7 linked regions of the Homo sapiens genome follow. The protein of the gene in region 1 interacts with the protein of each later gene in a pairwise test. Each region holds a gene or a part of one and is shown on either strand. Other genes may lie near its edges. The genes, in order: TCF19, NGFR, E2F6, TRIB3, DNAJA3, ZNF474 and NOXA1.

The links.
Region 2: the proteins of TCF19 (region 1) and NGFR interact in a two-hybrid assay, tested with the Homo sapiens proteins (one study listed by BioGRID).
Region 3: the proteins of TCF19 (region 1) and E2F6 interact in binary tests that used the Homo sapiens proteins (3 or more experiments, as listed by UniProt).
Region 4: the proteins of TCF19 (region 1) and TRIB3 interact in binary tests that used the Homo sapiens proteins (3 or more experiments, as listed by UniProt).
Region 5: the proteins of TCF19 (region 1) and DNAJA3 interact in a two-hybrid assay, tested with the Homo sapiens proteins (2 studies listed by BioGRID and IntAct).
Region 6: the proteins of TCF19 (region 1) and ZNF474 interact in binary tests that used the Homo sapiens proteins (3 or more experiments, as listed by UniProt).
Region 7: the proteins of TCF19 (region 1) and NOXA1 interact in binary tests that used the Homo sapiens proteins (3 or more experiments, as listed by UniProt).

Annotation. Positions count from the first base shown.
Region 1 is NC_000006.12:31,161,589-31,164,715, reverse strand, and holds the end of TCF19 (transcription factor 19), read right to left. Parts: coding exon 2,711-3,127; intron 2,240-2,710; coding exon 1,999-2,239; 3' UTR 1,900-1,998; coding exon of another isoform or gene 1,890-1,899; 3' UTR 501-1,889; downstream 1-500. Other genes in the region: POU5F1 (POU domain, class 5, transcription factor 1), read left to right, coding at 1-115. UniProt on the Homo sapiens protein: Potential transcription factor that may play a role in the regulation of genes involved in cell cycle G1/S transition. May bind to regulatory elements of genes, including the promoter of the transcription factor FOXO1.
Region 2 is NC_000017.11:49,501,793-49,505,292, forward strand, and holds part of NGFR (tumor necrosis factor receptor superfamily member 16 precursor), read left to right. Parts: intron 1-270; coding exon 271-412; intron 413-3,500. UniProt on the Homo sapiens protein: Low affinity receptor which can bind to NGF, BDNF, NTF3, and NTF4. Forms a heterodimeric receptor with SORCS2 that binds the precursor forms of NGF, BDNF and NTF3 with high affinity, and has much lower affinity for mature NGF and BDNF.
Region 3 is NC_000002.12:11,452,662-11,456,161, forward strand, and holds part of E2F6 (transcription factor E2F6), read right to left. Parts: intron 2,814-3,500; exon of another isoform or gene 2,681-2,813; intron 1,138-2,680; coding exon 921-1,137; intron 1-920. UniProt on the Homo sapiens protein: Inhibitor of E2F-dependent transcription. Binds DNA cooperatively with DP proteins through the E2 recognition site, 5'-TTTC[CG]CGC-3'. Has a preference for the 5'-TTTCCCGC-3' E2F recognition site.
Region 4 is NC_000020.11:390,760-394,259, forward strand, and holds part of TRIB3 (tribbles homolog 3), read left to right. Parts: intron 1-527; coding exon 528-820; intron 821-3,500. UniProt on the Homo sapiens protein: Inactive protein kinase which acts as a regulator of the integrated stress response (ISR), a process for adaptation to various stress. Inhibits the transcriptional activity of DDIT3/CHOP and is involved in DDIT3/CHOP-dependent cell death during ER stress.
Region 5 is NC_000016.10:4,428,868-4,432,367, reverse strand, and holds part of DNAJA3 (dnaJ homolog subfamily A member 3, mitochondrial), read right to left. Parts: intron 1-3,500. UniProt on the Homo sapiens protein: Modulates apoptotic signal transduction or effector structures within the mitochondrial matrix. Affect cytochrome C release from the mitochondria and caspase 3 activation, but not caspase 8 activation.
Region 6 is NC_000005.10:122,150,046-122,153,545, reverse strand, and holds part of ZNF474 (zinc finger protein 474), read right to left. Parts: exon of another isoform or gene 2,943-3,500; intron 1,768-2,942; 5' UTR 1,556-1,767; coding exon 461-1,555; 3' UTR 1-460.
Region 7 is NC_000009.12:137,429,893-137,433,392, reverse strand, and holds part of NOXA1 (NADPH oxidase activator 1), read right to left. Parts: intron 2,772-3,500; coding exon of another isoform or gene 2,643-2,771; exon of another isoform or gene 2,618-2,642; intron 2,610-2,617; coding exon 2,550-2,609; intron 2,319-2,549; coding exon 2,293-2,318; intron 2,158-2,292; coding exon 2,052-2,157; intron 365-2,051; coding exon 319-364; intron 189-318; coding exon 130-188; intron 1-129.

The sequences.
Region 1 (3,127 bases):
AGGCTATGGGAGCCCTCACTTCACTGCACTGTACTCCTCGGTCCCTTTCCCTGAGGGGGAAGCCTTTCCCCCTGTCTCCGTCACCACTCTGGGCTCTCCCATGCATTCAAACTGAGGTGCCTGCCCTTCTAGGAATGGGGGACAGGGGGAGGGGAGGAGCTAGGGAAAGAAAACCTGGAGTTTGTGCCAGGGTTTTTGGGATTAAGTTCTTCATTCACTAAGGAAGGAATTGGGAACACAAAGGGTGGGGGCAGGGGAGTTTGGGGCAACTGGTTGGAGGGAAGGTGAAGTTCAATGATGCTCTTGATTTTAATCCCACATCATGTATCACTTTTTTCTTAAATAAAGAAGCCTGGGACACAGTAGATAGACACACTTATCTTGGTTTGTCCTTCAGTTACTGAGGTAGGGATGGGAATATCCAATGCTCATACCCAAGTGACCCTGAAACTAAGGTGCCATTTACACTCCTTAAGGTCACACAACATCAGAGGGAGAGCTGGGATTGCAGCCAAGTTTATTTGTACAGGGCCCTGTGATAGGCTAGTTCCCAAAAGCCTGTGATGCAAGAACTTTTGCCCATAGACTCAGTCACCATGTAGCTGTTACCTGTTCAGAGCTGGCTTTTTGCTTTCCCACCCTACTCTGGAATTCTTAAATGGCTTTATACTTAGAAATCATCTTATTTCTGTTGAACCTAGATCACCCCAACCAGAAACTTCTATTAATACTTTGTGCTTTCTTGATACCAGGGTCTATTTGGTTTCCACTTAAGGTTTTTGCATACTCTGCCCATAAGTGACTCATTAGTTACTCAAGTTTTATTCCTGGCTCTGCCACTAGTTCATTAGGGGTCTTTGCCCCAGAGTCATTTCTTCCATTTTAAAAACTTGGGCTCATTAAATCTAGGTAGGAAAGGGCGGGTGTGGCAGGTTTTAATAGAACAGGTCAAGATAAGGCTTTATTTCTATAGAAATGATGCTTTGACAATAGTTTGGCTTGGTGTAAGGCTCACAAAAGAAAATCACATGTACCATGTGTGGGTTAAGCGGTTTGATTCACACTGAACCAGGCCAGCCCAGTTGCCCTCTGCTGTGTCCACCCGTGGAGTGGAGCTGTGTCACAGCCATCACACTGGTAAACTGCTGTAGCTGGTTTACCAGGCTTTCTCTTGCCCTGACAGTACAGGTGAAGCCTGTAAATAAATCTTCTGCTATCTTTGTGAACTTAACCAAATCCCAGTTACCTTATTTAAATGGCAATAGATCTGTTTTCCCTTAAACTAGAAACCTTAATTACCTGTATTCCTACCTCCAGCTCAACCCATATATTTGCACCTTTCCAGTAAGCAGGTTTGTATTTCCATCTCTCCCCTTCCCCTAAGATTCTGAATTAGTTCTCCAGACCTTGCCAAGCACATTCTCCCTGGAAAGCAAGGAATATCACAGACCCACAAGAAGAGTAAATGCCCAGGAGTGAATGAAGCGGCTTGTCCTTGACTTGGAAATAAAAGCAAAGCTGTGAAAAGCCAGGTCGCTACGATTTTGTTGGCAGCAGGACTAGCCACAGAGTAGGGAAGTTTTGGGGCCAGGCCCTAGGTTTTCCCAGAATGCCTTGGGTGATGCCACCAAGAACCTTAAGAACTCCCTCTTACATTTTCCATCGGTTGCAGGCATGGCTTTTGCAACTGATAGGTGCTCTGACTACAGATATTCTGGTGTCCATGGCAACATGGCCTTATGGCTTGTAATAGTGGGAACTTCCAGCTCACTGGCAATTTCCTGGAGGTGGCAATATCTTTGGCAGGAAACCATCTCTTCTGTCTTGGCCACCAGGGTCTGCTCCAGGCCCTGAATGAGTCCACATCAATCCATCCTTCTTCCCTGTAGTCATTCCCTCCTGGGGAGGGAAGGGAAGGGGGGTATTTATCAGACCTATTTGCTCGCTGCTGTGTCTACTCATGGGCAGGTGTGTCCGATGGTGCCTTGGCAGTGGACCTTAGGTCTGAATGCCAGCCCGGCACCCTGGGCATCGGAAGTCGGCCTCCCTGGCAGCCTGGATGCTGCAGCCAACACAGGCCACATGGAACCAGACGTCACAGCCATCACACTGAACCCAGGCCACTGTCTCTTCCTGGGGCAGGCAGCAACAAGGAGCTGCACAGGGCTCCCCGCCCCCAACTGCAGGGGGAGCCATGGGAGCGCTCACTGGGTACTTCCGAGGACGGCCACGTCGATTTCTGAAGGAAGTGACACAGACACAAGGGTCACCGGAAACCTGTAGGAGAAGGCCTAGACCTTGCCACCCTATGGCTGGTCATAGGGTGAGGCCACAGAGGCACAGTGGTCTGAGAACTAAGGTGAGCCTGGACTCTGTCCTTAAAAACACATAGGGTGGGCCTAAAAACCTCTAGTATGAGCCTGAAAGTTCCCCATCCTTAGGCACTAGAAGAATGGGGTTAAAGCCATATGAATGTAAAAAGCAGGACATGCTCACTCCGGTTGTTTTATAAGCACTGCCCCACCCCACCTCTCATGTTCTCCTGCACATATTTTTCTTTTCCTATCAGAGCTAACCCAGGTCTTGCCATTCCATCTATTCCACCTCCCGTGCCCATCCCCCCAGGCAGGGGGACCTCCTCACAGCCTAGGGATACAAGGAATCGAAAAGCAGTAAAACACTGAGAGGGCCAAGTGAGGACTCCACTTACCCAGTGGGAGTCAGTGGGGCTTTGTCTACACGGAGTTTCTTCCTGGGCTCCATAAGGACCGGTGGCGGGTTCTCAGGAGGCTCACTCTCATCATCCAGTTCCGCCAACACTCGGTGAACAGATTTCCTCCGATTGCGTTGTGGTGGAGCAGAAGGCGTGGTCCCCATTTCCCCAGGTGGGGCGGGAACAGGCAGGCTCTTTGGTCCACCCCAACTAGGGGAGAAGGTGAGGGGCTGGGGCCGGAGCTTGCTGAGGCTGCCTATGGAGTTTAGGATCAGTGTGGCCTTGGGGGCAGGGGAGAAGGTGCTGAGAGGCCGCTGTGGAGCCCCCTGGGAGGGCAGCATAGGCCGGAAACCAGCCCCAACCCGGGCTTCTCCCCTAGACCGTGGGATGGTAATGGCAGCAAAGTCCTGAGGC
Region 2 (3,500 bases), on another chromosome or scaffold:
TTGCTGTAACCCCAGGATGAACTTTGCAGAAGGTCAGCAGCTGAAGCTCTGACCTCACACCCCCAGCAGCCTGCACGGGCACACTGTCCCTCACTTGCCTTTCCCCTGTCAGCTTTGATGTTCCTAACGCCTCCCTGGTGAGCTCATCCCAGCCCAGGTGGTTCTAATAGAAGGCAGTGGGAGGAGGGTGTTTGATTCCCCGGAAGAACCCCCCCCAACCCACCCCAGCTTTCTCTTGCCAGTCTGACCCTCCGATCTCCCTCCATCCAGGTGTCCCTTGGAGGTGCCAAGGAGGCATGCCCCACAGGCCTGTACACACACAGCGGTGAGTGCTGCAAAGCCTGCAACCTGGGCGAGGGTGTGGCCCAGCCTTGTGGAGCCAACCAGACCGTGTGTGAGCCCTGCCTGGACAGTGAGTAGAGGGTGGCGGGCAGGAGGAGGGGAGAAGAATGGGAGGGAGGAGAGGGGTGAAAGGGAGGGGCGCTGGGGAGAAGCATGCCCAGTAGAGGCCTTATAAGACCACCACTGTAAGGTCATCAGAAGTGGGTCTGACCCAGTGTAGGAGGCGCTTCTCCCAGATTCGAGAAGCTGAGAATGGAGAAGGGAAGTGTGCAGAGGGAGGAGGGGAACCCCATGGGGGATCTCCAAGGGGTGCCCATTCCCAGCTCTGGAGAAGGCAGAGGCTTGGTAGAAGAGTGTGGCTGGGCAGGGAGGAGTAGCTGATGCTAAGACCAGCTAAAAATATCATCTGCACTGCAAAATCAATGGCTGCCACTTATCCCCGGTGTGTTTGGGGGAAGGGAGAGGAGGATCAAATCCTGGCTGCCCTGAAGGCTGACCTTGGGGGATCCTGGGGGTGTGGCTGTTCCTCCCTACAGGCCAACTCTTCTCCAGCTTTGACCAGGAAGCAGAGTTTTCCCGAGGCAGCAGGGATGGGGGTCAGAGCGCCATGAAGACGTCCTTACTGTGGGGTGACAGAGGGGAGGGGAGACGGGGAGCTGTGCCCATTCCTGCCTGGGATTTCTTCCTTCCTTCCTTCCTTCCTTCCTTCCTTCCTTCCTTCCTTCCTTCCTTCCTTTCTCTCTCTCTCTTTCTTTACCTTTCTTTCCTTTCTTTCCTTTCCTTCCTTCCTTCCTTCCTTCAACAGAGTTTTGCTCTGTTGCCCAGGTTGGGAGTGCAATGGCATGATCTCAACTCACTGCAACCTCCACCTCCTGGTTTCAAGTGATTCTCATGCCTCAGCCTCCTGAGTAGCTGGGACTACGGGTGCATGCATGCCACCATGCCTGGCTAATTCTTGTATTTGTAGTAGAGATGGGGTTTTACCATGTGGACCAGGCTGGTCTCAAACTTCTGGCCTCAAGTGATCCACCTGCCTTAGCCTCCCAAAGTGTTGGGATTAGAGGCGTGAGCCACCGTGCTCGACCCTGCCTGGGATTTCTTTCAGGAGGGGAGAGAATCTCATCTTCCTGGGCTGGTGGGTCTGGGCCCCTTGGCCCCAGTCTTGTCCAGGGTCTGAATTCCCTCATGCTTTTGAGTCAGGAGTCTCGGTCCCTGATCGGTGCCCCCAGTCCTCAGTTGCTGCCTTTGGGCCGTGGGCTCCCTGCCCTTTTCCTGACTCCCTGCCTTCTACCTGGCACTCGATGCCCACCTGGAGGGCTCGAGGGAACCATACTCAGATTATTCTTTAATCCGGCTGGGAATAAGGGGATAGAGCTGGGGCCTCTGAACCCACCTGCGGACCTAGTGTTACCTCTGGATGTCCCCCCTGAGTCTATCTGTCCTCCAGGCAACCCCAACTCTTGGTGTTCCCCAGACACACTGTTTTCCCATCTCTGTGCTTGTGGATCCTGTAACACCATTCCCCAGCCAAGAAATGCCTGGGCGTATGTGTGGAGGTGGGACATCCTCCAATGCCTTTGCCGTCTTGCTTCATGGCCACCTGCTCTGGCCCTGGCCTAACAGGGTTTCCATTCCAGGGCGGGGGTGGCCAACCATCAGCTATCCCAGAACCTCCAAATCTGCCTCTCTTGCTTCCTAGACTCCAGCCCAGGACTCTCCTCCCAGGACCTAAATGATGGGAACCCTTTCCCTTCAGTCAAAGGACCTTCAGCAGGAGGTGGGGCGGAGGACACCAGGAGAGGGAAGTTCCAGAATCTCTGGAAGGGAAGGGAGGCAGGCAGAGAGGTGGCTTTGAGAATCCTCCCTTCCACTTCCTCCCTCCCCTCCATTTTCCCCTCCTTCCCTGTCTCCCCCTCCTCCACCTCCAGCTGCATTAACAGGCTGCCTTTACAAGCCCACTTTATGGGACGGAGACCCCAGCGGACTTTCCCTCTACCCTTAAAACGTTTCCACAAGGAAACCTATTAAGCCCCTGCCTTCATTCTCTGCCAAAAAAGACCACATTTTTCACACCACCTAAAACCCTCTCCCAGGAGTTTTCTGCTAATTTTCTGTGTTTTGCCATGAGCAGGCTTCTCCTCTTCCCCTCCTGTGTGACTAGACTTACCCTCCATCACACGCCAGCCAGCCAGGACCCTCTTGTTTGTATAGCTCAGACATCCTGCCTTTGCTGTTTGTGTTTGGACGTTCTTTCTGCTGTCTGACCATATTCCTACCTCCAAAGTTCAATGTCCTCATCGCTCTCCACCCCCATGGGGCCCAATCTTTATAGGATCCCAACTACGTGCCAAAGCTTTATGGCTGAATTTCATTTATTCCTCACTACAACCCTGTGACTGCAGATATTGCTCCTTATTTTTACAGAGAAAGAAAAAGCTCAGAGAGGTTAAGTAAAACACCCAAAGTCACACAGCTTATAAGCGATGGAAATGGATTTTGAATCCAGATCTGCCTGCTCCTAGGAAAAGGGACACAGGGTTCCTCTGTCAGAATTCACTTGAAACTGAAGTCTCCCTCCAGGCCCTTCTTCCTGGGTCTTTTCTTCTCTCCTCTACCCTTTTTCTTTCTTTCTTTCTTTTTTTTTTTTTTTTTTTTTTGACAGCGTCTCACTCTGTCACCCAGGCTGGAGTGCACTGGTGCAGTCTTGGCTCACTGTAACCTCTGCCTCCCATGCTCAAGCAATCCTCCCACCTCAGCTTCCCGAGTAGCTGGGATTACAGACGTGCACCACTACACCCAGCTAATTTTTGTATTTTTTATAGAGATGGGGTTTTGCCATGTTGGCCAGGCTGGTCTTGAACTCCTGGCCTCAAGTGATCTGCTCGCCTTGGCCTCCCAAAGTGCTGGGATTACAGGAGTGAGCCACCACGCCCAGCCTTTGTCCCCAGTTCTGCCCCTTTCACTTCTCTCTGGCTTTTCCTTCTTTGCCTCCTCATCCCCCCACCACACCCCCGAAGCCAGTGACCCCTTGCTCCATCTTGTCTCTGATGCCTTTGAATAATGTTGAGACCCCCCTACAGGCCTCAGTTTCCCCCTAATGGCGCTTTAGCCTTTCTGCTTCTGCTTCCACATTCTGAACAATCTGTCCTTCCCTGGTT
Region 3 (3,500 bases), on another chromosome or scaffold:
ATATGACCAGGCAACAACTGATTTTCATTTTTTTCTTTCAATCTTAATGGAAAATAAATAGGGAAAGGTCCTTGCCTTTATCTTTTACTTGGTAGTTTTCAAATCTGATTCTAATTAGTGATTCACAATGCATGCCGATATAAACTCCTAAAGTGTTTTTTAGTGTTATTTAGTAAACATGCTCAAATTAGAATTCAACCTGTACTTCTGTACTATTGAAAAAATTACCTCCTTTATGAATCCCTTTCCTCTAATAACTAAGTTAATTATTTAGGGTCATTTTATGGTCTTTGCTGGTAGGTTTTCATTTGCCTGAGAGGTCACTATGTACTTATTTGCTGTAACTATTTCTCCCTGTCCCCAAATACTTGCCTATTCTAGGTACAACAGCATTCTCATGTGTGCACACACAGATACCTTTATCTATGTCAATGTCTTAAGCTTCCCTTTCCATTGGATTTCTCCTCATCATGTCAAGTCTTTAGCAACTGTCTTTTAGACACTGTCTGATTTTTTTTTTTTTTAATATTCAGGGCAGTATTTTAAACACCTCGCTACGTCATAATCTCCTGGGCTACCTGTTGAGAATGTACTTTCCTGCTTTCCCTCAGACCTACCGAATTACAACTCCAGAGGCAGTAAGCCTCTAGGTGTTTACTACACTTCTGTGTGAAAACCACTGTTTTACAACCTTAACAAATTTTCCCAATATCAATAATCAATTGGAACTGAGGAAATACTTTTTAAAAAATTTATGTACTCTCTAGGATGATGCAAGAAAATTTTATAGAATTCTCTTCTAACAAGAAGTCGTACCTTTGTATTATATTGTCAAAACACTGCCACTATCTAGTTTAAGCATGGAATTGTCACTTGATGAGAAGGAACAAAAGCCACGAAAAAGTTTGAAAGCAACTCACATCCATCTAATATGGTTCTTGGATTTCTTTTCAACGAGGTCGATTCCATCTAAGACATTGGTGATGTCATACACTCTCCGCTTTCGGACTCCCAGTTTCGTTGCAACCTTGTTTAAGTCAAGAATACCCCCGGGAGCAGATCTGACAAGATCCATAAATTTTCGAGTTAAATAAACCAGCGATACATCAAAACGAGGTCTCTTCACTTTTAGAGCTTCTGGGAAACAAAATAAACATATTTGTAAAATTTTAAATAACATTTCTCAACTCATTTTTAAAAATCATCTGTTTCCTCTTGATCAGATAGCAGACATCTACAGAAATGCCTACACATTGACCAAATCAAAGCTGGTTTCTATGAAATAAATCTCTTAAATTGGAGAAAAAATTCACTGGCCTATCCTGGCTCTAAACAAAGGCTTTAGATTTAAACAAAGGAGGATTTGAAATATGCAACCAGTGTCCACCGAACATGTGGACTTTCACAAGTCTACTGTATCTTCTCGGACAAAGCAGTGAGATTAATTTGCATCCATACCACTCTCAGGAATAGAATTACACATGATTTTTAAAATTAAATTTCTCATTTGGTCTTCAAGTTAAGGAATTCTTTACAAAGCAAAGGCAGAGAATTGGCGGCTTTTTTTCCCCTTTTAATGACTCTATCCATGTCATAGTGTAAGTTGTCTGATGAATTTTTTTGAAAGAGCCCAAACTAGTCTTCTATTAAGACAATTATGACATACCTCGAGCAACAGTGGTATCTCTCTCTTTTTTTTTTTTTTTTGAGAGAGTCTCGCTCTGTTGCCCAGGCTGGAGCTGGAGTGCAGTGGCGCGATCCTGGCTCACTGCAACCTCCGCCTCCAGGGTTCAAGTAATTCTCCTCCGGAGTAGCTGGGATTACAGGCATGCACCAGCACGCCTGGCTAATTGTTTTGCATTTTTAGTAGAGACGGGGTTTCACCATATTGGCCAGGCTGGTCTTGAATTCATTCCTGACCCTGTGATCCACCTGCCTCAGCCTCCCGAAGTACTGGGATTACAGGCATTAAGAGCCACCGCGGCTGGCCCAGTATCTCTATTTTTAAAAATATTCACTACCCTATATTAATTTAACAGATAGACAAAAAAAAAATCCCTTAATTCCCTCACTCACCTACTATAATGACTGGGGTTTTCATACACACACACACCTCTAACACATTCACACTTGTGTGCCAATCATATATATAGTTTTTAAAAACAAAAATAGGACCATGCAATTTTGCAACACGTTCTTTTAACTCCATATTGTGAACATCCTGACATGTCAACAAATGTATTTCAACATTATTCTTAATGGCTGCATGCTTAACTGTATGCAGTATTTGCTATTTATCCCAATATTAGAAATTAGACCATCTCCAACTTTACGATTTTGCTTCATATTTCAATGAACCTTTTTGTTGCGAAACTACTGTATGTCCCCTTAACTGGACATTTTTAAGGAATGTTGATATGTGCCGCTAAACTGCTCTGCAGGTTGTGGGTTCTATCCATTCTATGCAGTATACACGGGCCTCATCTCACATGCTCGCCAGAACTAAGTATCTTGTCATCTTTTCCAATTTGATACTAAGAAAAAGTTCTTATGGCTTGGTTTGCAGAAAAAATAATTTCTAAAATAACTTTGTCACTCTGGTGTGGAATATATGACTTTCTTTTTCTCTACTTCCACAGCACACCACAGTCAGTATGCCTCAAAGAAATGTCCATCCTACCTTCAGTCAGAAATGTCCTTACTCAGAACCTCCACAATGTCACATTTAGTTTAAAGACCACTGGCGGTTACTTCAGGAACAAAGGTACATATTTCATAATATAAATGTCTTCTCTCTGGAGCCCATTCCTACACTTAAGATTAAATAGGCGTAAATTAGGAATTTAAAAGGATTTTTAATCGGAAGTAGAGGGTCACAATTCTACAACAAACTCAGGAAGATTACAAATGAGAAATTCTAACTTTAAAAAGCATATATTTAATTATACTAATTATTAACAAGGCATGGTCTTATATGCTCAGGATAAGCATATTTCTATGTTATTTTATAAAGAACATGTACAACGGAACACCAAAAATGTGACAGTTGCTGAGGGGATATGAATAGGATTACAGAGGTCTTCACACCAAAGCAACTCCGTAGTCTAATAAGGAACTCTATTATATGTCCTGAGGTAAGTGCTAAGAGAGGTATTCAAAGTCACCCGATGGCAAGAAATCAAACCTTCACTGGAGGGGGAAACTGGGAAGGCCTCTTGATGGGAGTACACTGGGCATAGGGAACAGGAAGGCGAATGGGCGGTGTTTGCCCACTGTGACAGAGGGTGAGGGGCTGAAGTGAGGGAGAGGAAACCACACCTCAGAAGACAAAGCAGACTTAGAGAACCTGGGGTGCTTTGGGGATCACAGGTGGTGTAGCTTGTGCTGTGGAGGAGGGCGGCAGCATGCTGGAAGAAGAGGCTGCGGCATTAAGCAAGAAACAGCCTACAAGGGCCTGGTCTGCTCTGTCTACCCATTCTCTACTGCCTTGTTTCTTTTAA
Region 4 (3,500 bases), on another chromosome or scaffold:
GGAAGGCTGAGGCGGGAGGATCACCTGAGGTCAGGAGTTCGAGACCAGCTTAGCCAACATGATGAAACCCCATCTCTACTAAAAATACAAAAATTAGCTAGGTGCGGTGGCACATGCCTGTAATCCCAGCTACACTGGGGGCTGAAGCGGGAGAATCACTTGAATCCAGGAGGCGGAGTTTGCAGTGAGCTGAGATTGCGCCAGTGTGCTCCAGCCTGGGTGACAGAGCGAGACTCCGTCTCAAAAAAAAAAAAAAAAAAAAAAAGCACAGACAGTGGAGTGCATACGTGCAAATCTCAGCCGTGCTGTTTGCTGGCTGTGTGGCCTCTCAGCTTCGTTAACCGTAAAATGGAGCAAGTCATCCTACCTTATAGGACCATGGTCAGGGCTGAGTGACTCGGTCAGTGAAGCGCTTGGTGCGATGCCTAGCACATGGTAGTGTCTAATAGGTCAGCTGTGACTGTTTGCAATGCCAGCCTCAGCTCCCGGGAGTCCCCAGCTGTGCTAACACCATGCTCTGCCCACAGGTGTACCCCGTCCAGGAAGCCCTGGCCGTGCTGGAGCCCTATGCGCGGCTGCCCCCGCACAAGCATGTGGCTCGGCCCACTGAGGTCCTGGCTGGTACCCAGCTCCTCTACGCCTTTTTCACTCGGACCCATGGGGACATGCACAGCCTGGTGCGAAGCCGCCACCGTATCCCTGAGCCTGAGGCTGCCGTGCTCTTCCGCCAGATGGCCACCGCCCTGGCGCACTGTCACCAGCACGGTCTGGTCCTGCGTGATCTCAAGCTGTGTCGCTTTGTCTTCGCTGACCGTGAGAGGTGAGTGTGGTCTCAGAGACCCCAGCCACAGACACACCCAGGGGGTGGGCCATGATGGAGAGAAACCGAGGCCCAGGAAGGCAAGGTAACTTAGGCAAGAAGTGGGAGAAACTGAAGTAACCAGCAGCCCCTGTTTAGTTCCCTGAGAAGAGTTGACTCAGGCCAGGTGCAGTGGCTCACGCCTTTAATCCCAGCACTTTGGGAGGCCGAGGTGGGTGAATCACTTGAAGTCAGGAGTTCGAGACCAGCCTGGCCAACATGGTGAAACTCCGTCTCTACTAAAAATACAAAAATTAGCCTAGTGTGGTGGCGCACACCTGTAATCCCAGCTACTCTGAAGGCTGAGGCAGGAGAACTGCTTGAACCTGGGAGGCGGAAGTTGCAGTGAGCCAAGATCACGCCACTGCACTCCAGCCTCGGCAACAGAGTGAGATTCCATCTCAAAAAAAAAAAAAAGAGTTGACTCAGTCCTCTTGGGAGCCCCTTGGGATTCTGGGATGGAGCACTGAGATGTGAAAGTCATAGTAGCCGACAGTGACGAAAGCATCGCCACATTATCTAACGTGGTCTTCCATCCTTACAAACACGAGGCAGGTACTGTTATTATCCCCATATGATCAAGGAAACTGAGGCCCAGAGAGCTCAAGTAACTTGCCCAAGATCCCATAGCAGAATAAATGGTAGAGCTGGGATTTGAACCTAGATCTGACTCCAGAGCCTGGGTCTTAATTCAATCTGAGCTTGAGAGGCAGGGGCCTGGCTGGGCTTACCAACTGACTTTGGGTGACCTAGTGTCTCTGAGCCTCAGTTTCTCCGTTGGTAAGGAAAAGGGCTGGATTGTTAGGGTGTTTTCAGGATTCCAAGACCACAGCCAAAATAGGGTCTGAGGTTCCCCACACGGGAACGTTTTCTGTGAAACTGAGAATTAGCACTTTTTGGTTAAAAGAATCTTCCTTCTCTAGGTTGGGATGCTAAGAATTTTTTTTTTTTTAATTGAGACAGAGTCTCACTCTGTCACCCAGGCTGGAATGCAATGGCGCGATCTTGGCTCACTGCAACCTCTGCTGCCTGGGTTCAAGTGATACGCCTGCCTCAGCCTCCCGAATAGCTGGGACTACAGGCATGCGCCACCATGCCTGGCTCATTTTTTCTATGTTTAGTAGAAACGGGGTTTTGCCATGTTGGCCAGGCTGGTCTTGAACTCTTGACCTTAGGTGATCCGCCTGCCTCGGCCTCCCAAAGTGCTGGGATTACAGGTGTGAGGTACTGCACCCAGCCTAGACGCTAAGAAAAATTTTTAAAAGATAATTCTGGGGAGAAGGGCAGAGAGACTCGCCTCCTGTTCCCTCTCCAGATTCCTGGGGGCAGTCAAGATGTGTCAGGGAGTGCACTAAGCTGCCAGTTACACAGGAGTTTTCTGTGGAGAAAGGAGTGTGACCCCATGGCATTTTAAAAAACTTTTTATCTTGAAATAATTTTAGACTTTTAGAAAACCTACAAAAATAGTTCAAAGAGTTTCTGCATATCCTTTAACCAGTGCTCTCCAATGTTAACACCTGACGTAGCTATGGTACAATTACCCAAACTATTAACTAAGCCACAGATTGATTCCCACTTCCCGAGTTTCCCACTAACACCCCTTGCTGTGCAGGATCCAGTGAGGATCCCAATTTAGTCATCAGTGGTTTCCTTGGTCTCTTCCAATCTGAGACAGTTCCTCAGTCTTTCCCTGTCTTTGAAGACCCATGACCTTGACACTTTTTTTTTTTTGAGACAGGGTCTCACTCTGTCACCCAGGCTGGAGTGCAGTGGTGTGATCACAGCTCACTGCAGCCTCAACCTCCCGGGCTCAAGTGATCCTCCCACCTCAGCCTCCTGAGTAGTTGGTTCTACAGGTGTGTGCCACCCCACCTGGCTAATTGAGATGGGGTCTTGCTATGTTGCCCAGGCTGGTCTCAGACTCCTGAGCTCAAGCAATCTGCCTGCCTCAGCCTCCCAAAATCCTGGGATTATAGGCGTGAGCCACTGCTCCTGGCCATAACCTTGAGACTTTTGAAGAGTACTGATCAGTTACTTTGTATGTCCCTCAATTTGGATTTGATTGATGTTTTCTCACAGTTAGATTGCAGTTATGTATTTTTGGCAAGAACAACACAGAATCGATAGGCCCCTCTCCACATCATATCAAGAGATACTTGAGCTGATAGTCATTCCTATGTCGTGACCTTGATCACTTGGTTAGGGCAGGACCTACCAGGTTTCTCTACTGTAAGGTCCTAATTTACCCTTTGTAATTGACAAATACCTTGGGGGAGGTAAGCTAGGCATATAAATATCCTGTTTTTCCTCAACTTTCACCCACTAATTTTAGCAGCCATCCATCTTGCCTATAGCAGTTATTATTGTGGTGCTTGCCTAAGTCTAATTTTCTTTTTCTTTTTTTTCTTTCTTTCTTTTTTTTTTTTTTTTGAGACAGAGTCTCGCTCTGTTGCCCAGGTTGGAGTGCAGTGGCACGATCTCGGCTCACTGCAACCTCCACCTCCCGGGTTCAAGTGATTCTCGTGCCTCAGCCTCTTGAGCAGCTGGGATTACAGGCACACACCACCACACTTGGCTAATTTTTGTATTTTTAGTAGAGATGGGGTTTTGCCATGTTGGCCAGGCTGGTCTCGAAATCCGC
Region 5 (3,500 bases), on another chromosome or scaffold:
TCCATCACAGAAAAAAAAAAGAAAAAAAAAAAGAAAGAAAAATAAGCCTGGGCACAGTGGCTCTCGCCTGTAATCCCAGCACTTTGGGAACCTGAGGCGTGAGGATCGCTTGAGCCCAGGAGTTCGAAACCAGCCTGGGCAACACAGAGACCCTGTCTCTATTAAAAATAAATAAATAAATGGATCAAAGACTTGAACTTATATGACATACTAGATGTTTGTAAATAAACTTATGACATGGAAAAAAAAGAGAGAGAGACAGAAATAGGCTAAAGAGGACTTTGAATCCATACAGATTTATACCTATAACTAAACTAGATGGCAGTGGTGGTAGTGGTGGTTAGAGATGATAACGATTAATGGGGCCTAGGAATAGGAAGGGCCTTAGAGCTATGCTAAGGAGTCTGGATTTTATCCTAAGAGCAATAGGGAGCCACTGCAAATGTTAAACAAAGAACCCATTAGGTTTGCATGAGAAACAACTCTAGGCCAGGCAAGGTGGCTCACGCCTATTGTAATCCCAGCACTTTGGGAGGCCGAGGCGGGTGGATCACTTGAGGTCAGGAGTTCGAGACCAAGCTGGCCAACATGGTGAAATCTTGTCTCTACTAAAAATACAAAAATTAGCCGGTCATGGTGGTGCACGCCTGTAATCCCAGCTACTTGGGAGGCTGAGGCATGAGAATTGTTTGAACCTGGGAGGCTGAGGTTGCAGTGAGCCAAGATCGCGCCATTGCACTCCAGCCTGGGCGACAGAGCAAGACTCCACCTGAAAAAAAAAAAAGAGAAACAACTCTAGGAAGCCTGGGAGACTACTCGAAGTTAATCAGCACAAAACACAACCAGAGGTTGGTTGAGCACATCCAAGTAGGAGGCCAGGTAAAGGATGATCAGACAGGAGAATGGATAGGAATGGTCAGGATACTTAAAATTAGAAATAGGAAATAAATCCGTGTGTTTGGCACACCCAATATCCTCGGGATACAAAAAGCACACTGGAAGTAGTAGGGGTCAGGAGACCACTTTGTGTTTCTTCAGTCAGACTTGAGAAAACACTAGACCTGACTTATTATTGAACTTGTACTCAACCCTCTTTTTATTTCGGAGTAAGGGGTTGCCCGGCCCAGTCCAGCCTCTCTCTCACCACTCATTCCAATGCCACAAGGCGGAGGCTGGTAGTGACCTGTGGCAGCTGTGGCTTCAACATTACGGGCAGAGAACACGGACAGGAGTTAGTACAGAGATAGTAACGCACAAAACTGCATGTGGATAAAGACAAATCACGTTTAATTACAAGACTGATGGCTTTGTTTTTTCTTTTTTTGAGACAGAGTCTCACTCTGTCACCCAGGCTGGAGTGCAGTGGTGTGATCTCGGTTCACTGCAACCTCCATCTCCCAGGTTCGAGCGATTCTTCTGCTTTAGCCTCTCAAGTAGCCAGGACTATAGGCGCACACCACCACACCTGGCTAATTTTTGTATTTTTAGTAGGTAAGAAGTTTCACCATGTTGGCCAGGCTGGTCTCGAACTCCTGACCTCAAGTGATCCGCCGGCCTCATCCTACCAAAGTGCTGGGGTTACAGGCATGAGCCACCATCCCCAGTCTGATGACTTTTGACATTATCCATAGGGCATCAATGATTAACAATAATTAGATTTCATTTAATAGACTATTTATTTTATCACATATGACCAGTAAATGTCCTGTCCTTTTTAGAACAACCCAGAATAAAATAAGCCTCCAAGTCGTTCTAAGAATGGCCAACCCACTGTCCAACAACTGCTTTCTTTTTTTTTTTTTTTGACAGGGAGTTTGGCTCTTGTTGCCCAGGCTGGAGGGCAGTGGCGCGATCTCGGCTCACTGCAACCTCTGCCTCCTGGGTTCAAGCGATTCTCCTGTCTCAGCCTCCCGAGTAGCTGGGATTACAGGAACCCGCCACCACGCCTGACCAACTTTTTCTATTTTTAGTAGAGACAAGCTTTGGCCATCTTGGCCAGGCTGGTCTCAAACTCCTGACCTCAGGCGATCAACCCACCTCCCAAAGTAATGGGATTGCAGGCATGAGCCACCATACCTGGCCACCAACAACTGCTTTCTTTCTGCTTGGAAGAAAAGTCACATCTAAAATGTTGTTATGTCATCTTACTACTAGATTTGAGACAAGATCACAGACTAGTGTTTGGACGCTGAGTTAATGACCTTTTCAAAATTTTTTTTTTTAAGAGACAGGGGTCTCATTATGTTGCCTAGGCCAAATTCAAATTCCTGGACTCCAGCAATCCTCCCACCTCAACCTCCTGAGTAGCTAGGACTATAGAGGCTCGCCACCACATGGCTTCTCAGTTGATGACTTTATTAATTTTTTGGTAGAGAAAGAGTCATACTCTGTTGCCCAGGCTGGAGTGCAGTGGCATCATCATGGCTCACTGCAGCCTCAACCTTCTGGGCTCAAGTGAAACTCCCACCTCAGCCTCCCAAGCAGCTGGGAGTACAGGCAGTTGCCACCATAGTTGGCTAATTTTTTTTTTTTTGAGACACAGTTTCGCTCTTGTTGATCAGGCTGGAGTGCAATGGCGCTAACTCGGCTCACGGCAACCTCCGACTTTCACGTTCAAGCAATTCTCCTGCCCCAGCCTCCCGAGTACCCGGGTTTACAGGCATGCGCCACCAGGCCTGGCTAATTTTGTATTTTTTGTAGAGACGGGGTTTCTCCATGTTGATCAGGCTGGTCTCAAACTCCTGACTTCAGGTGATCCGCCCGCATAGGCCTCCCAAAGTGCTGGGATTACAGGCGTGAGCCACCATGTCCGGCCACAGTCAGCTAATTTTTAAAAATCTTTTTGTAGGCCGGGCGCGGTGACTCACACCTGTAATCCCAGCACTTTAGGAGGCTGAGGTGGACAGATCATGGGTAAAGAGATCGAGACCATCCTGGCCAATATGGTGAAATCCAGTATCTGCTAAAAATACAAAAATTAACTGGGAGTGGTGGCACGTGCCTGTAGTCCCAGCTACTCAGGAGACTGAGGCAAGAGGATCACTTGAACCCAGGAAGCGGAGGATGCGGTGAGCCGAGATCACGGTGAGTCAAGATCATGGTGAGCCGAGATCGCACCACTGCACTCCAGCCTGGCTACAGAGCAAGACTCCGTCTCAAACAAACAAACAAAAAAAATCTTGGCCGGGCGCGGTGGCTCACACCTGTAATCCCAGCACTTTGGGAGGCGGAGGCGGGTGGATCACGAGGTCAGGAGATCGAGACGTCCTGGCTAACACAGTGAAACTCCATCTCTACTAAAAATACAAAAAATTAGCTGGGCGCGGTTGCAGGTGCCTGTAGTCCCAGCTACTCGGGAGGCTGAGGCAGGAGAATGGCCTGAACCCGGGAGGCGGAGTTTGCAGTGAGCCGAGATCGTGCCACTGCACTCCAGCCTGGGCGACAGAGTGAGACTCCGTCTCAAAAAAAAAAAAAAAAAAAAAAAATCTTTTTGTAGAGAT
Region 6 (3,500 bases), on another chromosome or scaffold:
TAATTGTTGCTAAAGTCATTGGGGGTTTTTGACACAGATTCTATTTTAGTAAGATAAACTCAGCATAACCCAGCATTGCCAAAAATGAATTCCTAAGGTAGATGACTAAAATAAACCGACAATAAATATTGGCTGTTGGAATGGGAATTATATCTCTGTAATGTAGACACAGCATTAATGACTCATTTTCAAATTACTGTCTCTCCCAGGGATTATTTGTATCAGGGATCAGGGAAGAAAGAAGTCCATCTCTTCTTCTTTTAGACAGCAGAATTGAAGAGGAATATGAACCCATCAGGCAAGGATGTTCTTATATCTATTCAGCCAAGAGAGGTATAGGCCCTGGAGTTCAACAGGGAGTTAACTTGAACAGGCTGCTTTGAGGCTGATACAAGGCATTGATAGAAAAAATACTAGGGGCTGAGGTGGCTGATTCTGGGGATAGTTTTCTCTTGTTCCCCTACAGGCAGAGGGCACCACCAGGTTCACCTAATGCGTCTTGTGTGGCATGAATTACCTTATCAGTTACACTGGGTGCTGCCCTGTTCCTTTGCTGCTTGGAATTAGTGTACTCTTTTAGGCCTCCTTTACTCCCTAAATTCAAATTCTGATATTTTGGCCCATAAGGATGAGTTTTACAACTTCTCTGGTGTACCAGGAGGCGGTCTGAGGTAAAGATTCGGCTACAATGTGGGCAGAACACAAGCTGAGCTTGATTTGGTCCCGCTTGGCTGGACTGTGCATTCGGAAGGGGCTGAGGCTTCTGTGGGAGTGGCTGGTGGAGCTCCACAGGGAGCCGGTCATTTTCCATTTTCCACTTTTCCAGGCATTTGGGCTCATGAATAGGAAGGGACAGGGTGCCAAATTCCTTACCACATATGTAGCAGATAACAGTCCTTGGTCGGGCTGGGGTTCCACTACAAGCTTTCTTGAGGCCAGTAAGATGATCAGAACTGTTTGAGTGTGGTGCTCTGGGACCCTCACCCTTTGGCTTGCAGCTTCTGTGATGAACAAGAAGATGATCTGGCAAGAATGTGCGGCCACAGGATTCACAGGGCAGCAGCTGAGCCTGGGCACTCTGAAATGCAGCCTCGTTAGTTGCCTGAAGACTGTAGGACCCACTGCTGCTGAGAGACTGTGGTTTGGAGGGTTCTGGCCTCCTCAAATGCTTGGGCAACTTGCTGTTTTCAATATGCCACTTCTGCAAGCACTGGGGTTCATGAATGGCAATTGACTGGGACCCAAATTCTCGGCCACAGATATAGCATACCCGGAATCCAGGCCTGCGGGCCGGGATCACAGGGGGGCTAAGCTGGCTTTCCGATATAATTCTTCTACTTGACAGTTTTGATAGTATCACAGTCCCAGGTCTCTTTTTCTGAGTGTCTGTCTTTATATTTTCACCAGGATTAACACTCTCTGTTTCTGGGGAAAGGCTAGAATAGGAGTCACTAGAGAGAAGCCCAGCTTGGTTGATAAGGAAAGTGGGTTCTTTAGAATGGTGAAAAGTTTGTTGTAACTTATTGGAAATTCTTTTCTTCTTTCCTCTTTCCATTAACAAAGATGTCTTTCTGTAGTGCTTGCTCTGATTTCAGGCCAGACTCACTTTGGGCTTCTGCTTAGAGTGAAGGTTAGTGAGGTTAGTTGTCCTGGGGTTCACACCGTTGCCAGTACCTTAGCCTCACAGACCGTGACTCAGAGCTTCATTGCAGGACGGCAGTCTGGAATGTTGGAAAGTCCTCATTAAAGCTGAGATGTCTCCAAGATCTGTGGAGGCGGGTGGGAGACATAAGAAGTTATTATGTAAACACACACACACACACACACACACACACACACATTTAGGTTGTTTTGTGTGTGTGTGTGTGCTTTTTTTTTGCTTGTTTTAAATATTGACCTTGTATACTTTTTGACTAGCACAGTAACCAGCATATGGGATTTGGTCAATAAACTGACATAAACCTGAGGAAATCTTCCATCATCAATTGCACTATCACTGTATTGAAAATCGTGTTCTGCCCAAAAAGTTAACTTGACAATTACAGCACATCATAGATACAGAAGACGCAAAGCAATAGAGGCTGAGACCAGGGTGGTGAGACCATAGAAGAGAAAACTGCAAACTGTGAATATTAGATTAATGAAATCAGCAGGTCATACGAAAAGACCCCCTGGGCCCCACAGAAACTTCCACTACGTCAGAGATCCTTAACTTGTTAGTGACATGGATTCCTTTGACAATTCTGTGAAGCCTATGCACTTCTCAGAATAGTATTTTTATAAGTAAAAATAAAAATTGTTGCTATCACAGGTGAAATCAGTTTTACTGAAATAATTTGTCAACTGTTTCTAGTTGTGATATACATTTTAATTGAGGTAAAGTTGTGTCACAGACTTCTTGAGTGTCCATGGACCTGAAATTAAGAACTCTTGCAGAAGAAGTAATTCAAGAATGAATCTTATGAGGATTATCAGGATAGCCCTCAGAGGGACATAAACTTCTTGTGACACATCATGTATTCACTTTTGTTTATTATGGGAATAGGGTATTAATAAAGTGGAGCTATAATTCTCCAGCAAAGAGTACAGCCTAGGCCGGCACCCATCCTGGTGGGATATCTGCAGATCTTTCATGGAAAGATGATACACAGATGCTGCTTGAGGCTCTTTTTTTATTAAAAAGGTATCATACCTACTTTCTTGTTTTATATATGTATGACTTCCAAATATTTTTAAATATAAAACAAAGGCCCTGGATTCCCCAAGGATCCCCACCAGAAGAAGTGGCAGCTTAGATATCCATTTATGGGAAGAATCTTAAATTTGTATATTGGGAAAAGTTATGAGTAAATTTTACCGTGGGTTTATAATCTGGCTCCCCAAAAAGATTATTTCAGAAGCCTCAGGACCTTTTTCATTTCCTTTATCGTTTCATTTATCAGGGTGATAAACTCTAAAGCATCCATTCTTAACCACAGAAGAGCAGCCCCTGGTATGAAGCTGGATCCTCTACATCACGGCAAACACTTCAGTTTGGACAGTGCAAGGCCAGCAGTCCTGGTAATATGGAAACCCTGGGCACTGGATTTGATAAAGAACAAGAAGAGCTGTGATATCTGTGCCCAGCTCCTGTACTTTGGTGCCAACAAAGGTCTGAATCCTTGCCTTTAAGAGTATCAAATCAGGTCTGGCACAGAGAAAGAAGTTATTCTTCATTTTGACAGATTCTAAGACAGTAATGTTAACAGATGTGGGAAAAGTATGTGTTGGCCCCAGAGTGGCCAGCATAGAAAATAAAACAGAGAAATTTATCACTCGATCAGTACCATCTAAAAGAGAAAGTAGATCTATGGAACATAGGAATAGGGTAAAATTATTTCATTAGGTTTTAAATCCAGCCCGTGGGTTATTTCCACAAACCATTCTGCTTTATTGGCTCTGTTCACCGAGGAATTTTAGTTTATCATTTTCCTTGATACTAGGAAATTGCAGACACTAAT
Region 7 (3,500 bases), on another chromosome or scaffold:
CTTCAGCCCGAGGGGTGTGGACAGAGACTGGGCAGGTGAGGGGGGCTTGCAAGCCTTGATTCTGAGGGATGGGGCTTGGCCTCAGCCTCCCTCAGGTGACTGACAGGTGAAGGGTCTAGAGCCTCTTACCCCAGCACCCGCGGGGTCCTCACAGGGGCCGGGGCCAGGCCCCCCCATTGCCGGCAGCCCTGTAGGACAGAGCAAGACTGACACAGCCACTACCACCAAAGTGGGCCCTGTGGGTGGAGGGCAGCCGGCACCCATGCACCAGCAGCTTCCTCCTTCACCCGGGGACCCCGCCGCTGAGGACGCCCATACCTGGGGAGAGAGGAGCCTGTTTGCCAACTTGCTCCACCTGGGGCCTCTGCAAGAGAAGCACAGGCTGGGTGGGCTGGGGCGGTCAGGTGCTGGAGGCCGGTACTGTCCTCGCAGAGCCCACACCAAGGGTGTGGCCTGTGTGCCCGGCCAGCACCCAGCAGGTGGTCTGTGGGTGTTGAATTCAGGGCACTGGCCACAAGTCGGCTGCCTTAGGATGGGGCTGGGTCCCTGCAGACCTAGAGGCTGCCTGTCACCAGGAGGGAGCGCCCCGTCCCCCAAGGCCCACCGAGGTGGCAGCTCCAGGTGGGTGGGCTCCCCAGTGACCCCAGGAAGCTGAGGACCCAGTCCCTGGGCCCCGGCCTCTGTGTGGGCTCGACATTAACCGTGTGCCCTGAGTTGGGCACTGAGCAGGAGACCAGTTCACCAGCTGCAAGTCACAAAGTCACAGCCCAGCGCTGGCTAGACCCTGAGGGTCAGGCATTGCTGTTGTTTTTTGAGAGGGAGTCTCGCTCTGTCGCCCAGGCTGGAGTGCAGTGGCGCCATCTTGGCTCACTATAAGCTCCGCCTCCTGGGTTCACGCCATTCTCCTGGCTCTGCCTCCTGAGTAGCTGGGACTACAGGTGCCCGCCGCCATGCCCAGCTAATTTTTTGTATTTTTTAGTAGAGACAGGGTTTCACCATGTTAGCCGGGATGGTCTCGATCTCCTGATCTTGTGATCCGCCTGCCTAGGCCTCCCAAAGTGCTGGGATTACAGGCGTGAGCCACTTCGCCTGGCTTTTTTTTTTTTTTTTTTTGAGACAGGGTCTTGCTGTCTTGCCCAGGCCGGAGTGGAGTGGCACTGTCATGGCTCACTGCAGCCTCCACCTCCCAGGCTCAAGCAATCCTTCCACCTCAGCCTCCCACGGTGCTGGGATTACAGACCACTGTGCCCGGCCTCGATTGTAACTTATTATTAGATTTATCAGATGGTTGAAGTTGCCTTAGGTTAGGAAGGACGAGAGCTTAAAGGCCCATCGTGGGAACTGGGCAAATAGTTCCAAACCCTGAGGGAATTAGTGAAGCACAGCTTGGAGGGCGCCCTTGCCCCCGGGATGCCACGGTTAAACTGGAAGTGGGCATCCATAAAGAGAGAGTGCCGGGGCTGCTTCCTGATCGCATCCTCAGATGCGCTCAGCGTGAAATGCAGGTGCCTTCTCTGGGCCTCCCGGATCCTGCAGCAGAGCCTCCGCCCACGGCTGCCACCCTGGGAGCAGCTGGGGTTCCTGCCTTCCTCCGCCTCTCCCCAGGTGCCGGGGTGTCCGGGAGGACTCGGGGGATGGAGTCGCTGCTGGGCCCCCATGGGGGGCGGGAGCCTTGGGGCCCCTCCAGAGCTGTCCTGCCTCCCGCCTGTCCCCAGCTGGGTCACTCCTGGTCACTCGCACCCCAGTGGGAGGGGAGGGGCAATGGCCAAACTGAGGTGGTCCTGGGGGCTGAGGGCCTGCAGGGCTACGTGGATGTCTCCACTGGACACCACCTCTCTCCTGTCCTGATGGCCAATGCCCACTCGCCTCGGGCACAGCCAGGCATCCTCCCATCTGGCTGGGCTGGGCCAGGACCACGGGTGAGCCCGGCCCCGTCTACCCCCCAGCGAGCTGCTCCCTCCACCCTCATGTTGGTCCCATTGTGGTCCCCAGTCTGCGGAGGCAGCAGAAGCACCGACCCCCAGCAGGGGAAGAGGCCCAGGCCCACGCACCTGCTCCTGGTAGGCAGTCGACGTGCAGCGGTCAGCACCGACCTCTGTCTCTGCATCGAGGGGGCCCTGGTGGGTGCCAGCTCTTGGGGAGTCCATGATTAGGGACCTAGGGAGAGGAGGGAGGCTCTCAGGCCCTGCCCATCTGACTGCCCTCCTGTGCCCGGCCCGCGTGGCCCCATGTGGAGGGCCTCTGCCCAGCAGGAAAGGCACGCGCTCGCAGGGCCCAGTCAGCCCCTCCTACCTGGCATCATGGTTCGCTCCTGGTCCCTGTGGACACAAAGCAACAACCTCGCTCTGGTTAAGGGTCGGGGGCCGCCCTCCCTCCTCCTGAACCTTGAAGAGTGGTTTCCCCAGGTCTTACACAGGGATGGGATGGCCACCCCACACCTCCCATCAGAGGAACTTCGCAGCCCCAGGAGGGCTCAGAGCTTGTGCAGCATTTTCTTTCCCAGAAAGCTGGGTGAGGCCAGGCAGGGGTCTGAGGGGCCGCAAACCCACCTGTGGCTGCTGAGGGCGGACGCCCCAGCCCTGGTCGTCGGGGATGGCAGAGGCCACCACCTGGCGGGGACAGTGGGGACGCTGGGTCAGGGATCAGCGGCCCAGCAGGGTCTGCTCCCTGCAGCCCGCCCCACCGTGCCCCGCAGCTCTAAGTCCCCGGGGGCTGGGTGACAGCTGCCCATGCCCGGCCCACGTCTGCCAGACCACCATGGAGGGAAATGTCTGATGGAGAAAAACATCTGCTGCAATGTTAACTTATTTTTAGCACAACTTTAAAAACATTTTGGTTTCTTATAAACAGCACTCTACTGTGATATGCGGACTCTAAGTTAATGCATTAACACAGCTCAGAGCCCGGCTTCGCCCACCCCAGGCCTCCCCTGCTGGGCAGCTGCACTGGGCCCAGGAGTCGGCCGTGGCGCAGCGCAGGTGACCGAGGGGGCGTGGCCAGCCAATGGGGCGTGGCCAGTCCGGGGCGTGGCCAGCCAAGGGTGACCCAGTCTTTGCCCACCAGGAGTTCTTCTTCTCCGCCATGTTTCGCCCGCTGCCTTTGGGGGTGAGCAGCTCCCCATTCCTGTGACTTTAGGGGTGTTGCCTGGCTCTGACCCAAGTGTGGGCGTGACGTGGCCCAGACCGTCGGACTGCAGCCCCTGCCCCCGTGAGACCTTGCTATCTGTGGCAGGGACACAGGGACCCCCCCAGGGACCTCGCTATCTGTGGCAGGGACACAGGGAGACCCCCCGGGACCTCGCTATCTGTGGCAGGGACACAGGCACCCCCGCCCCCCGGGACCTCGCTAGCTGTGGCAGAGACACAGGCACCCCCCCCGGGACCTCGCTACCTGTGGCAGGGACACAGGCACCCCCCTGGGACCTCGCTGTCTGTGGCAGGGACACAGGCACCCCCCCGGGGACCTCGCTATCTGTGGCAGGCACACAGGCATCCCCCCAG